Linked DNA regions of Homo sapiens. The protein of the gene in region 3 interacts with the protein of the main gene of each other region in a pairwise test. Each region holds a gene or a part of one and is shown on either strand. Other genes may lie near its edges.

Evidence for each region.
Region 1: the proteins of CRYBA2 (region 3) and FHL5 interact in binary tests that used the Homo sapiens proteins (3 or more experiments, as listed by UniProt).
Region 2: the proteins of CRYBA2 (region 3) and FLNA interact in binary tests that used the Homo sapiens proteins (3 or more experiments, as listed by UniProt).

The regions. Positions count from the first base shown.
Region 1 is NC_000006.12:96,601,052-96,604,797, reverse strand, and holds part of FHL5 (four and a half LIM domains protein 5), read right to left. Parts: intron 3,746-3,746; exon of another isoform or gene 3,646-3,745; intron 1,197-3,645; 5' UTR 1,185-1,196; coding exon 1,026-1,184; intron 49-1,025; coding exon 1-48. UniProt on the Homo sapiens protein: May be involved in the regulation of spermatogenesis. Stimulates CREM transcriptional activity in a phosphorylation-independent manner.
Region 2 is NC_000023.11:154,368,035-154,371,780, forward strand, and holds part of FLNA (filamin-A), read right to left. Parts: intron 3,328-3,746; 5' UTR 3,212-3,327; coding exon 2,839-3,211; intron 57-2,838; coding exon 1-56. UniProt on the Homo sapiens protein: Promotes orthogonal branching of actin filaments and links actin filaments to membrane glycoproteins. Anchors various transmembrane proteins to the actin cytoskeleton and serves as a scaffold for a wide range of cytoplasmic signaling proteins.
Region 3 is NC_000002.12:218,991,465-218,995,210, forward strand, and holds the start of CRYBA2 (beta-crystallin A2), read right to left. Parts: upstream 1,959-3,746; 5' UTR 1,713-1,958; coding exon 1,552-1,712; intron 780-1,551; coding exon 638-779; intron 1-637. UniProt on the Homo sapiens protein: Crystallins are the dominant structural components of the vertebrate eye lens.

The DNA.
Region 1 (3,746 bases), on a different chromosome or scaffold from region 3:
GCACTTGAAGCATCCTTCATGCCAGTGCCGGTCTTTGTAACAAAGATCCTTTGAGACAGTAAATAAAAGTTAATTAAATGTGGTTGTGACAATACAGGCCATTTTATGAAACAAAACTGAACACTCCTGGGACTCTCATGTCAGTAGGTTGTGCTAGTAGCGTGAGGGAAAGTTGTTACTGAAACTGTTACCCATAGAGAGGAGACTCTCTGGGGTAATTAAGAGCTAGAGCCCAGGGCTTTCTTGGTGGGTCACTTAAGGCAGCTGGGAAAAAACAAATACATTCTCTGCTGTGTCTTCAAAATTTGCCTATATTCTTTTTATAAACTATAATAGAGGTTTTTCATGGAATGATTTTTAAAAATTTTAGGGTGCAATGTTCTATTACTCTTTGAGATGTAACTAAACAGACAAAAAATAACATCACCTAAGTAAAACAAAGGCAGAAAGAGGGAAGAAAGAGACAGAGAGAGAGAGAGAGAGAGAGAGAAAGAGAGAGGAAAATAATCGGAGGATGGAAGGAAGAAAAGAAGAAAGAAAGAAAGAAAGAAAGAATAAGCATGTCGGAGGAAGGGGTGGTAGGTGTGAGAGGTATCAATAGGGTTTAGTAAGAAATGAAGCTGATTTTACATCAGAAAACAGATTTTGAATCCTTTCAACTTCAATTCTTTATGCATTTATTTATACCCTTGTCATTCCAGAAATAACAAACACACCCAGAAGGTTACTGAGAGCTTGGAAACAGCAGGAAAATTCTAGCTGTGTAACTTTGGACAAATAGCTTAACCCCTTTAATCTTTAGCATTCTCAGCTACCTTAGAAGATCATGTGAGGATTAAGCATATGTTGTATTTCATAGTGCTAAGTGTAGTGGCTGGAGCTTGACTGCTGGTAACTTTTAAGATCCTTATATATCCAGTAGCAGAGAAATAGTGTTGAAAGTCAACACTAAATGAAAAGAGGCACTCCAACCCACTTGTTTGCTGTTCATAGGCAGTAATTCTGTAAATTGAGGTGAGACTTACCTTAGAATCAGATTCAATTGGTTTTTTGCATTCCTCGCAATAGTTAGAAAATACACGATCATAACATGTAACACAGTATGGACTGTCATCCTTTAGTACATATTTCTTCCCAAGAAGTGATGCTGTGCAGTATTGACAGTAAAAGTGAGCAGTTGTCATTTTGGTTTGATCCTATGAATGACAAAGTGATTAATGTATATAAAAGCAGAATTTTGTTTATAGGATAAATGATGAAACCTTAATATAATGTGAGTGAAGCATTTGAATGAACTTATATTTTCTTAAGCAAAAATCCCCCAATTTAGGAAAGTATGCTTATAGTCATGGTGACATTTGGAGTGATTTAGGAAAGATTACTCTCCCATCTTGGCAGTTCCCTGTATGTTTTGCTAAAAAAAAATGCATAAAACCTGCATCTAGATTATGAAAAACATCTTGTGTTTATCATAAGCTAATGTGGAATTCAATGAGAATATGGTATCTGTTGAAACAGGATGGTTTTACCTCAAGGATATAAACTGTTGCTAGGGCTTTTAATAACTATCATCACTTACTTTCTTGCTGGAAAATTCTAGAGGCAGATTTTGATGGAAATAACAGTCTTTTTTACTCAAATATAAATTAATAATCAGTACATTGTCATTTTCTAGTTCATTCTTTTACTCCTCAAGTCTTTACTGAATACCTAATAAGGGCTCTGCACATTTACCCTGAGGTCTTCGTGTACTACATCCCCTCCTTGGCTGTGGCTTCCACCATCCCAAATGTGCTGATGACTCCAAAATCTCTGTTTTCTGCTAGCTTTAGATATCTTCATTTAAATGTCCTTTACCAAACTGGCCAAATAAAACTCCTCAGCAGGTAGGATTCTCAGACCAAGTGCTAGGTCTTTGTGACTATTGTGAACAATTGCCCAGATGCAGAAGTGCAGATAAAATCATCAGTGGTAGAAAACAACAATGGGTTCCTTCAGGCTTTAGGGCCAAAGTAACATGTATAGAGCATAAATAATAGCAGCAGCTATTCCATTATAGCTATGGATAAAATAGCTAGAATTCATCTGCAAGGCAAAATGCATTCTGTAAGATGAATAAAAAAGCTGATATGAAACATAAAGCCAGTGATAGATAAGGACTCTGATTGTTTTGTAAATTTGGAAAGCCATTAAGAAACAATGCACAGCCTGTAGTCCCAGCTACTCGGGAGGCTGAGGCAGAAGAATGGCGTGAACCCGGGAGGCGGAGCTTGCAGTGAGCCGAGATTGTGCCACTGCACTCCAGCCTGGGCGACAGAGCCAGACTCCGTCTCAAAAAAAAAAAAAAAAAAAAAAAAAAAAAAAAAAAAAAGAAACAACGCATATAGATTTCCAGGTTTTAATTAGGCATTGAACATGAATTCTTTGTTGTTACAAAAAAAAATTAGCACTGCTTTTCCTTGGAAAATGAGATTTGTCATCTCAGGGTTTACTGGAATATATTAGGAGCTTTGAATATTTTCTAATTCTCCCCCCACATAATTTTTCTTTTAATTTTAGCAAAATCAGAGGAGCAATTAACGATAATACAACAGAGTTTTTGATACTAGTTTGTACTGACTACATTTGAACTCTTATTCTCATGCGTTTTGCCTTATTCTAGTGATGAAATTCCCAGCAGAGAGCCTTGCTGAATGCACATGATTATTAATTCTGTACATAGCAGTTTTGCTATATTGTTCTTCACTAACAAGTAGAGAAAAGGCAGAGGATTTGGAATATGTGGGTCTTTTCCCAGGAAAGAGATGAAATGCAGACTAGAAAGTTCGCAATGGAACATGGCCAAAATTATCTAAAAGGAACATTGAATTCTCCATTTGATTAATTCCACAGAAATGTTCCTTCCTAGTGAATACAAACACACTCAGAGGGTTACCGAAGGCTTGGAAACAGCAGGAAAATAGATCTAATTCCCTTGAAAGGTTTAAAAATAAAAGTTGTATTCACATTTACAGCGATCAAGTGTTTGTCACTTTATAGAAATAAAATATGTACCTTTAACTCTCTTCACTTAATATGGAAAACGTCGTTTTCATTAATATTTATTTTAGTTTTAGATGTGTATAATAGCATCATGAAACACGGCCCCTCAGGGGTTAGGAACTGCAGTCTACTGCCATTTTGTGAGGCTTTTAGTGTATTATAAAATGAATATATAAAACATATAAAACCACAAAAGGGATTACCAAATTGATAATATTTCAATTGTTTATTTTAAATGACACTTTAAACATGACAACATCAAAATACCTGTAACTTATTTAGTGATCAGATCAGAAGTCTAAATATAAGACAAGACGGTCCTTCTCCCACCCCAGTCCTAATTACATAACAGGCCTGGATCCACAGAAAATGCCTTACAATATAGACCATATTTCTTAATTTTTTGTTTTGTTTTGTTTTTTGAGACAGAGTCCTGCTCTATTGCCCAGGCTGGAGTGCTGTGGTGTGATCTCGGCTCACTGCAACCTCTACTTCCCGGGTTCAAGCCATTCTCCTGCCTCAGCCTCCTGAGTAGCTGGGACTACAGGCTCATGCCACCGTGCCTGGCTAATTTTTGTATTTTTAGTAGATATGGGATTTTACCGTGTTGGCCAGGATGGTCTCAATCTCCTGACCTCAAGATCCGCTCACCTCGGCCTCCCGAAGTGCTGGGATTACAGGCGTGAGCCACCGCGCCTGGCCTC
Region 2 (3,746 bases), on a different chromosome or scaffold from region 3:
GGTCCAGATGAGGCCCAGGATCAGCTTCAGGTTCCCGTCCACGATGGCCTTGCTGTCTGTGAGTAGAAGAGTGGCCACGCTGGGCACACGGCTGTGCGGGAGGGGCCGATCCCAGGCTTTGGGGTCAGGGTCTGGCAGCACGGGGTAGCAGGGGCCAAGGAGGAGGTAGACACCCCCTCTTGGCCAGTGGTAGGATGTGGATGAGGCCCTCTCTGCCCAGGGTCCCAGGGGGTGTTCAGAGGTGAAGGAGACTTTGGGGTGAGGGCAGATACACACAGACACACACACACGATGCCAGCAGGGTATGATTACTGCCAGAAGCCCTGGGCCCAGAGGAAGGGCAGAGGGCAGACCCAGCCTGCAGATGGGCAGCTCTGGAGAACAGCTGGACAGTGTCCACAGCTGCCAGAGCAGGGGTCCGCCACACACCTCAGGGGCCTATGGGGAACCAGGAGGAGGAGGCTGACTCCAGCTGGCCCAGAATCCAGGGCCCATGACCTGGAGTGGGGCTGGGGCTGAGGAAGAGGAAGGTGGGTGGCCCTGGGTGGTTGGGAAATACAACTGTTGTTCCAGGGTGGGTGGGGTGAGGCAGGGGAAGTGGGGGAGTTGGGCAAACGCCCTTTGGGTGAGGGATTGTGACCCCCGCCACCACCCCCACTTCCTCTACCACCTCGAAGACTCAAGCTTGGAGTTGGGAGGCCACAGGCCTAGCCAGGGGAGGGGCCCAGAGCCCAAAGGAACCAGCAGTTGGGCCACATGGCCCTGACTCACTGGGGCCCATCGGGAGATGCCGGGGTGGCAGCAGGAGACACTGGGAACCCCCTTGCCACCCACTGCCTGACCCACTTGCCACCTAACGGGCCTCTGGGCCTCGGCAGGCTCGCCACAGGGGAAGTGGTTAGGGCGGGTCCCTGACACCCCCCATCACCATGGCAACCCTGCTGGGCTCTGGGCCCCACCCAAGGCTACTTCTGGGTCTCAGGCTCAAGGCAGGATGGCTCATCTTTAGAAGCCCTGTCAGCCTCCCCCATAATCAGACAAAATACTTCTCTGGTGAGTCAACTAGGGGGCGGGCCTATGAGGAGGGGCTGGGCTGTCCATGGCAGCTGCTTCCCAGCCCAGCAGGCAGCACCTGGAGGGCCAGGTGAGCCGCTCAGAGTGGCCTCCCCAGTTCCCAGGTTGGTCCTGGCCCCACGAGGCTGCCTTTCACTCTCCCCAAATGGCAGCAGGGAGGGGGACTCGGAGAGGACCAAGGGTGCAGGGCCAGGGAACAAGGCCAGCCAGGGCTTCCCATCAGGCCCCCACCCCAGTCCAGCCTCAGACCCCTCAACGACCCCCACACGGGGAGCAACCAGGCCCACCAGGTCCATGTTAGGCCAGCCTACTCCGTCCCCATCCCCCTCCCAAAAGAGAGAGGGAAGGACCAGGGCCCAGGGCTGGGAGACTGTCTGGCTGGATGGCCCCGCCCCATCCCACCCCCCTTTCCCCAGCCCCTGGGCCAGCCAACCCCTCCCTCCCCTAATCACTGCTGCTTTCCAACATTTTTTTGCCTTATATGGCAAAGCTCTGGGAACTAGGCCTGCTCCAGCCAGCTCACAAGGAGGAGGGGAGCTGGGAGGAGGGAGGAGACCCCCCCTAAAGAGCTGGGGTGTGGCCCGCCTCCCCACATCCGGTCGCCCCCCCTACCATCCAGGACTGAGATGACTCAGCTTGGCTAGACTGAGGCTGGGACTTGTGGGGGTGGGCCTGCCCCTCGCCTCAACTGGCATTCCAAAGAAAGAACTTTGGTTCTTGGGATCTGCCCTCTGAGTGGCTGGGGGAACCCAAGTCTTGGTCCCTCACTTTCTTGGGTTCAGCAAGGGCCATTCCAGGGCTGCAGGGTAACTGGAAGGCCTCTCAATTCTGAAGAAGAGAAGACTCATCATCCCTCTCCTCTCCCTGTTCCACATCACCCCCGAGTCACCCATTCTGGGGCCTGCCCTCTCATGCAGCCCCTATCTTGAGAACGAATTGGGCTGCTGCAGCAGGCCTGGTCAATGCCAGCCTCTCCAGTCCAGTGACACAGACACTGGGCTGGCACAATGCACGCTGGAGCATCTACCAACCAACTCCTGCGTGCTACACGCAGAAAAGCAAGGCCTACATGGAAGCAAGAGTTTGGCCCAAGATGAAGAGAAAAGTTGGCGTCCAAGTAGTCTACAAGCCAGGTCTCTCAGTCAACCACGCCCAACTCACCCCGGGTGCAGTTTTGCTAACTATGCTTCTTTCTGGCCCCCAGGTTGCCTGTGTGTGTGTGGGGGGGTAGATCTAAACTGGTGGTTGGAGCCATCTCCGATGGGCGACCCATCCTCCAGGGACACAAAGAGCCCAGAGCCCCAGACAATGGGACGCACGAGCTCCAACCCACACTTCAGAACCAACGGGCCTCTGAAGGCCAGAGGGCCCTCTCTAAACAGCTGTGGGGGGAGAGCCCGGGCCTCCTCCTCCTCGGGGACGGGGCGCAGGGCCAGGAGCCTGCCCAGTGCCCGACCCCCCAGGCCCACTCCCACCGCGAGCACAGCCGCGGAGGCGCGGCCTGCGGAGGATGTGAGTTCAGCCTGGGCGCCGGCCAGCCGGGGCGCAGCGGGCGGGGGCGCGTAGCGGTTCGCACGCCCGGCCGGCCAGCCAGCCAGCCCGCGCGCCTTTGTTCTGCAGGCCCGCGTGGAGCAGAGCAGCCGGAGGCCTCGGGAGTTGCGCTGCGGCCCGGAAGGGGGTGGTTTGGAGGGGTCCGCCCGGGGAGATGGAAGGACGCACGGAGTCCCCGCCCCCGCCCGCCCGGCGCTTCGGGGCGTCCCTCACCGATGGACACCAGTTTGATGCTCTCGCGGTCCAGGAACTCGAGCGCCACCGACACGTTCTCAAGCTGCATTTGGCGGAAAGTGGGCCGCTGGTTGTGCTTGCGGTGCATCTTCTTCTGGCTGAGCACCTCCAACAGCGCGATAAGCCGCAGCCCGTCGCTCAGGTCCGTCTGCAGGTTGGCGATGCGCTTGCTCACGCACTTCAGGTGCTCGTTGCACCAGCGCGTGAAAGTGTTCTGCTGGATCTTCTTCCACGGCGCGTCCTCCGCCAGGTCCTTCTCGGTGGCCGGCATCTCGGCGTCCCGCGTGTCGACGCCGCCGCCCGGAGCCGCGCCTGCTGCGCTCTGGCCCGCCCGAGAGTGGGAGCTACTCATTTTGAGGCGCGAGAAGCCGGGGGGGCGGTGCTGCAGCCTCGGCGAGGGGACGGCCCTTTAATTAAAGTCGCAGGCACCTAGGCGCGCGGGAGGCGAGGCAGGGAGCAGAGGTTGCGCTGCGGAGAGAGCGAGCCCTTTAAATGCGGGAGGAGGGCGGGGCCAGAGGGCGGGCCTCCTGCGGGGAGGGGCCGTGGGGTGGGGCTTCGAGGGCGCGCCTGCCCCACCCCGCCCCGCCCGTTGGAATGCCCCCACTAGGCCCCCGGGTTCGGCTGATCAGACGCGAAACCCGGGCTCCAGGGTGGGTCGCTGGGCAGTGGGGTGGGCAAGGATGCTCCCAGCCCCGCAGCCTCGCGTTGGCGCTGCAGGAAACGCGCCCTAGAGCGAGGAAAGGCTGAGCAGTGTCTGGCGCGGGACTGCTTGGCCTGCAGCCGGCGCGCCTTACAAGGGACTTTCCTTCCCCAGGGCCCCTGCGGGGGGTGGGGTGGCTCTCTTCCCTAAGTCACTTGGGCTCTGCCCCGTCCCTGCACATCCCTAC
Region 3 (3,746 bases):
CAGGGCATCAATACTGATTGCATCTTGGCTCCGGCCTTCCCACTGCAGGGTTCTTCAGCCTCTTGGAACAGAAGAATTGGGCTGGCCTGGGCTGGGTCCTCTGCTCTCCACTTCCCAGCCCTACTAGTAACCAGGTCGGCACAAATGGAAAATGAGGTCCTCTCTTTCGGTGTATTTGATTCATTAACAACACCCTCACACACACAATAACACACACACAAACACACTGAGACTGACTCTTTTCAGTGACCCTGGGCAAGCCACTTTGTCCCTTTGAGCCCCATTTCCACACCTGTGTATGGGGCTAACAGCAGTCAACCCGACCTCACATGGCTGTGTGACGACAGAGGCACTCACTCACACGTGTGGACGATGGAATGTGGGGGAACCCTGGGCACTCAGGACTGGGATGGCCTCAGCGCTGTCCGTGGTGATGATTTCTGGGCTCCGGGCCTACGCCCACAATCCCAACTTTCTTGGAGACACCCTTCTGATTCTGAGAAATAATGCTACTACCACCCATCTCGGAGTTTGTTTACACACACCCCATGCAGGGCTTGAACAGCCTTTCTAGGTGCCATGGTGAGGCCAGGGCCTGGAGCTAGGAGGCAGGGGAGGAGAAGTGGGCTGTGCTCACCGCGCAGAGCACTGGCCGGAAGGACAGCAGCTGGTTGCTGTTGTGGCTGCTGCTGCCACTCCAGGCGCTCCAGCGAGGATAGTCTCCCTTCTCCAGAATGAACTGCTGTCCCTGGAAGTCGGGGTACTCAAAGGCCACCCAACTGGAAAAGGAGAAGAGCTGGGAGGTATCTGCCCCAGCCGCACCCTCTCTGCCCTCCCCCTTGCCGGCCATGATTGAAAAGACTGAGAAGCACAATGTTTTTCTCCAACCCCAAACCCTTCCCCTGACACCCCCATTGTATGGCAATCCAGCCCCTCTCGGAACTAAAGGTCCAAAACCTGCTGCTTTCTGGGGTTTGAGGCGCCCAGGCTTCCCCCTCAAGGACCCCAGGTTGGGAAAGAGTTTTCCTGGTTATGAAGATCTCCCGACCCAGTGCTCCTGCCTCAAGGGTTTAGGCCTTTGCATGGGGACACATTGGAGGACCCCTCCCGAATATCACAGCAGAAACTGGGACCTCAGCTGGGGCAGGGGTAGGGGGCGGCAGGGTGGGAAAAGCTGGGCTCTGGGAGACCAGGGTGGGGCCAGGGAAAGGGATTGGGTTTCTTTTGTTAAGCCAAGTGCAGAGCCTTCTAATTTTGCACAGAGAAAAACTCTGGGAAGGGTGTAAGTACACTAGAAACCCCTTCACGGTGGGGTCCCATAGGGACCCTCAAGGGGTCGCTTCTCGCCTGTGTCTCTTTAGCTAGCACAAAAATACACAGTTTCCCATGATTTATCTTGCGATGGGTGGGGAATTTTGGGGAGGCTATGGGGTTTCCCATGTTGGCAGGTCTCTCCAGGGCTCACAGGACAGGGGGCTGAGGCTCTGAGCCTAGGCCGGTGGAACCCAGCGCCCCTCAACCCAGCCCAGCCGCGGCCAGGCAATCACTCACACGCCGTTTTCCACCTTGACCGAGCGCACCCTGGGCAGGCCTCCGCGCTCGCAGACGTTCGCACAGTCGCTTAGCAGCCGACAGCGACGGCCCTGGAAGTCCTCCTCGTCCCAGAGCGTGAGGCTGGCGGGCGCCGGGCCCGGCGCGGGGGCGCTGCTCATGCCGCTGCGGACAGGAAGGGTGGCACCACGCGCTCAGCGTCTCAAGAGCCCCGTTTCGAGCCACACACAGCCTGCCCAACCTGGGTAGCGGATGAAGAACCCGGGGGCTGGACCCGGCCTAGCTCTGGACCCGGCTGCCAGGGGCTCGCAGTCTTCCCGCGCTCCCCTCCCTTCCCCACCCCAGCAGAGGGCATTCACCGGGTGGGTGAGCGCGGCACGCGAGGGAAATGGACCGGCTGCGAGGCTGCGCGCGGCCGGGCGGGCCGAGCTTTATACCTGGGCCTTGTCCCCCTGTCCGCACCCTTTCCCTCGGGGGTGGGGTCGCTGAGTCAGCAGGCAGGCTGCGGTCGGCTCTGGTCTCCGCTGGGGAGCCGAGGCCTCTCCCGCAGCCGCCGCTGTGGCCCCAGCCCGCGGGAAAGACAACAGAAAGTGCTGAGGCGCGCACCCCGCGCCCGCCGCAGCCCAGGCTGACTCCGCGCTTTCTTTCTTTCCAGCCTGAGCCAGGCAGGGCACGCCAGGCCTCGGGGCAGAACGCGCCCTCCCTGTCCCGGCCCTCGGGGACGAAGGGACCTGGCCTCCCCTGGGCCTCGGGCTAAGACCGCGCTGCTGACTCGCTGAGCGGAAGTTCTTCCCAGAGTCTAATCGCCAGCCTTCCTCGGCCCTAGTCCAGGCCTCTCTTTTGGGCGATGCTAAGGCGGAGGTAGAGAGGGCTCTGCCCAAAGGATTCGCTTCATGTGCTCAGTCCTCTTTTTCCTGGGGGATCGGTCCATCGCGGCCCTTTTCCTCCCAAGCGTGCGTTCCCAGATCCTGCGCCGCGCCCCCGGGGTGTCCTCGGGCCCGGGAAGGAGAGGAGGCGGTGGTCAGGACTCGCCACGCGGCGGCGCCGGGCGCTGGAAACGACCGCCCGAGGGCCGCGCGGTTTACTCAGTGTTTAGGCATAATAGCCACCTAGGGAGTGGCTCGCCGCGGGAGGTAGGAAGAATGTTGGGCTTTAGCTCGGCTCAACCGGTGCCGCTGCGGGTCTCCCACAAAGCTCCAGGCTCTAAGGGTTCCAGCCTCGACGTCTGCCTGAGAGTTAGCAGCTGAGGATGAAGCGCTTAGTTCAGGCCGAGTTCTCTGCTCAGGCTTTCGGGTGCGTGAACTCCATCAATTCTAACACTGACCTGCTAGGAAGATACTGTTATTGTCCTGCATTTCGCAGATGAAGAAGTGGAGGCCCAGAGGGCTTTGGAATGTGGTGCAGGGGTCACAGCTAAGAAATCTCCCAGGGCCGGGCGCAGTGGTTCACACCTGTGATCCCAGCACTTTGGGAGGCCCAGGTGGGAGGATCTCTTGAACCCAGGAATTTGAGACCAGCCTGGGCGACATGGTGAAACCCCGTCTCTGCAAAAACAAACAAAAATTAGCCGGGCGTGTTGGCATGCGCCTGTAGTCCCAGCTACCTGGGAGCCTGAGATGGGAGAATTGCTTGAGCCCAGGAGGTGGAGGTTGCAGTGAGCCGAAATCAAGCCACTGCACTCCAGTCTGGGCGACAGAGTGAGCTGGGAAAAGGCGGCGGTGGGGGTGGGGGTGGGGGGTGTAGAGAAAAGGGGAGGTAGAGGGGGAAGAGGAAAAGGTTGGGAGCTCCAAAAAGGTTGGGAGTCCCAAGGGGTAGCTCCAGGTAGGAAATTTCCTCACCACTTGCAGTGGAATTTTCTAACCACAGCAAATGAGACACAAAGGCTTCTTGCAAAATTGTAGGTTTTCCTTAATGGTGGTGGGTGCGGGTGGGGATATTCCAGCAGAGGTGAGAGGGGCGAGTGAGAAGGGAGCTAATATTTTGTTGCTTCCATGAGTCACATGCTTCCCTTATGGGTCCTCACAACAGTCCAGCGAGTTAGGTTTGTGTGTACGGTTATGGAAGCGGAGGGTCAAAGAGGTGCAGGGCCTTGTCCAAACTCACATGGCTAGCCAGTTTCAGAGCAAGAATCGAGCTCAGACCTTTGGAAGCCAAAGCCTGTGCTCCGCCGCTGTCCATTGAAGCTCCCGTGCCAA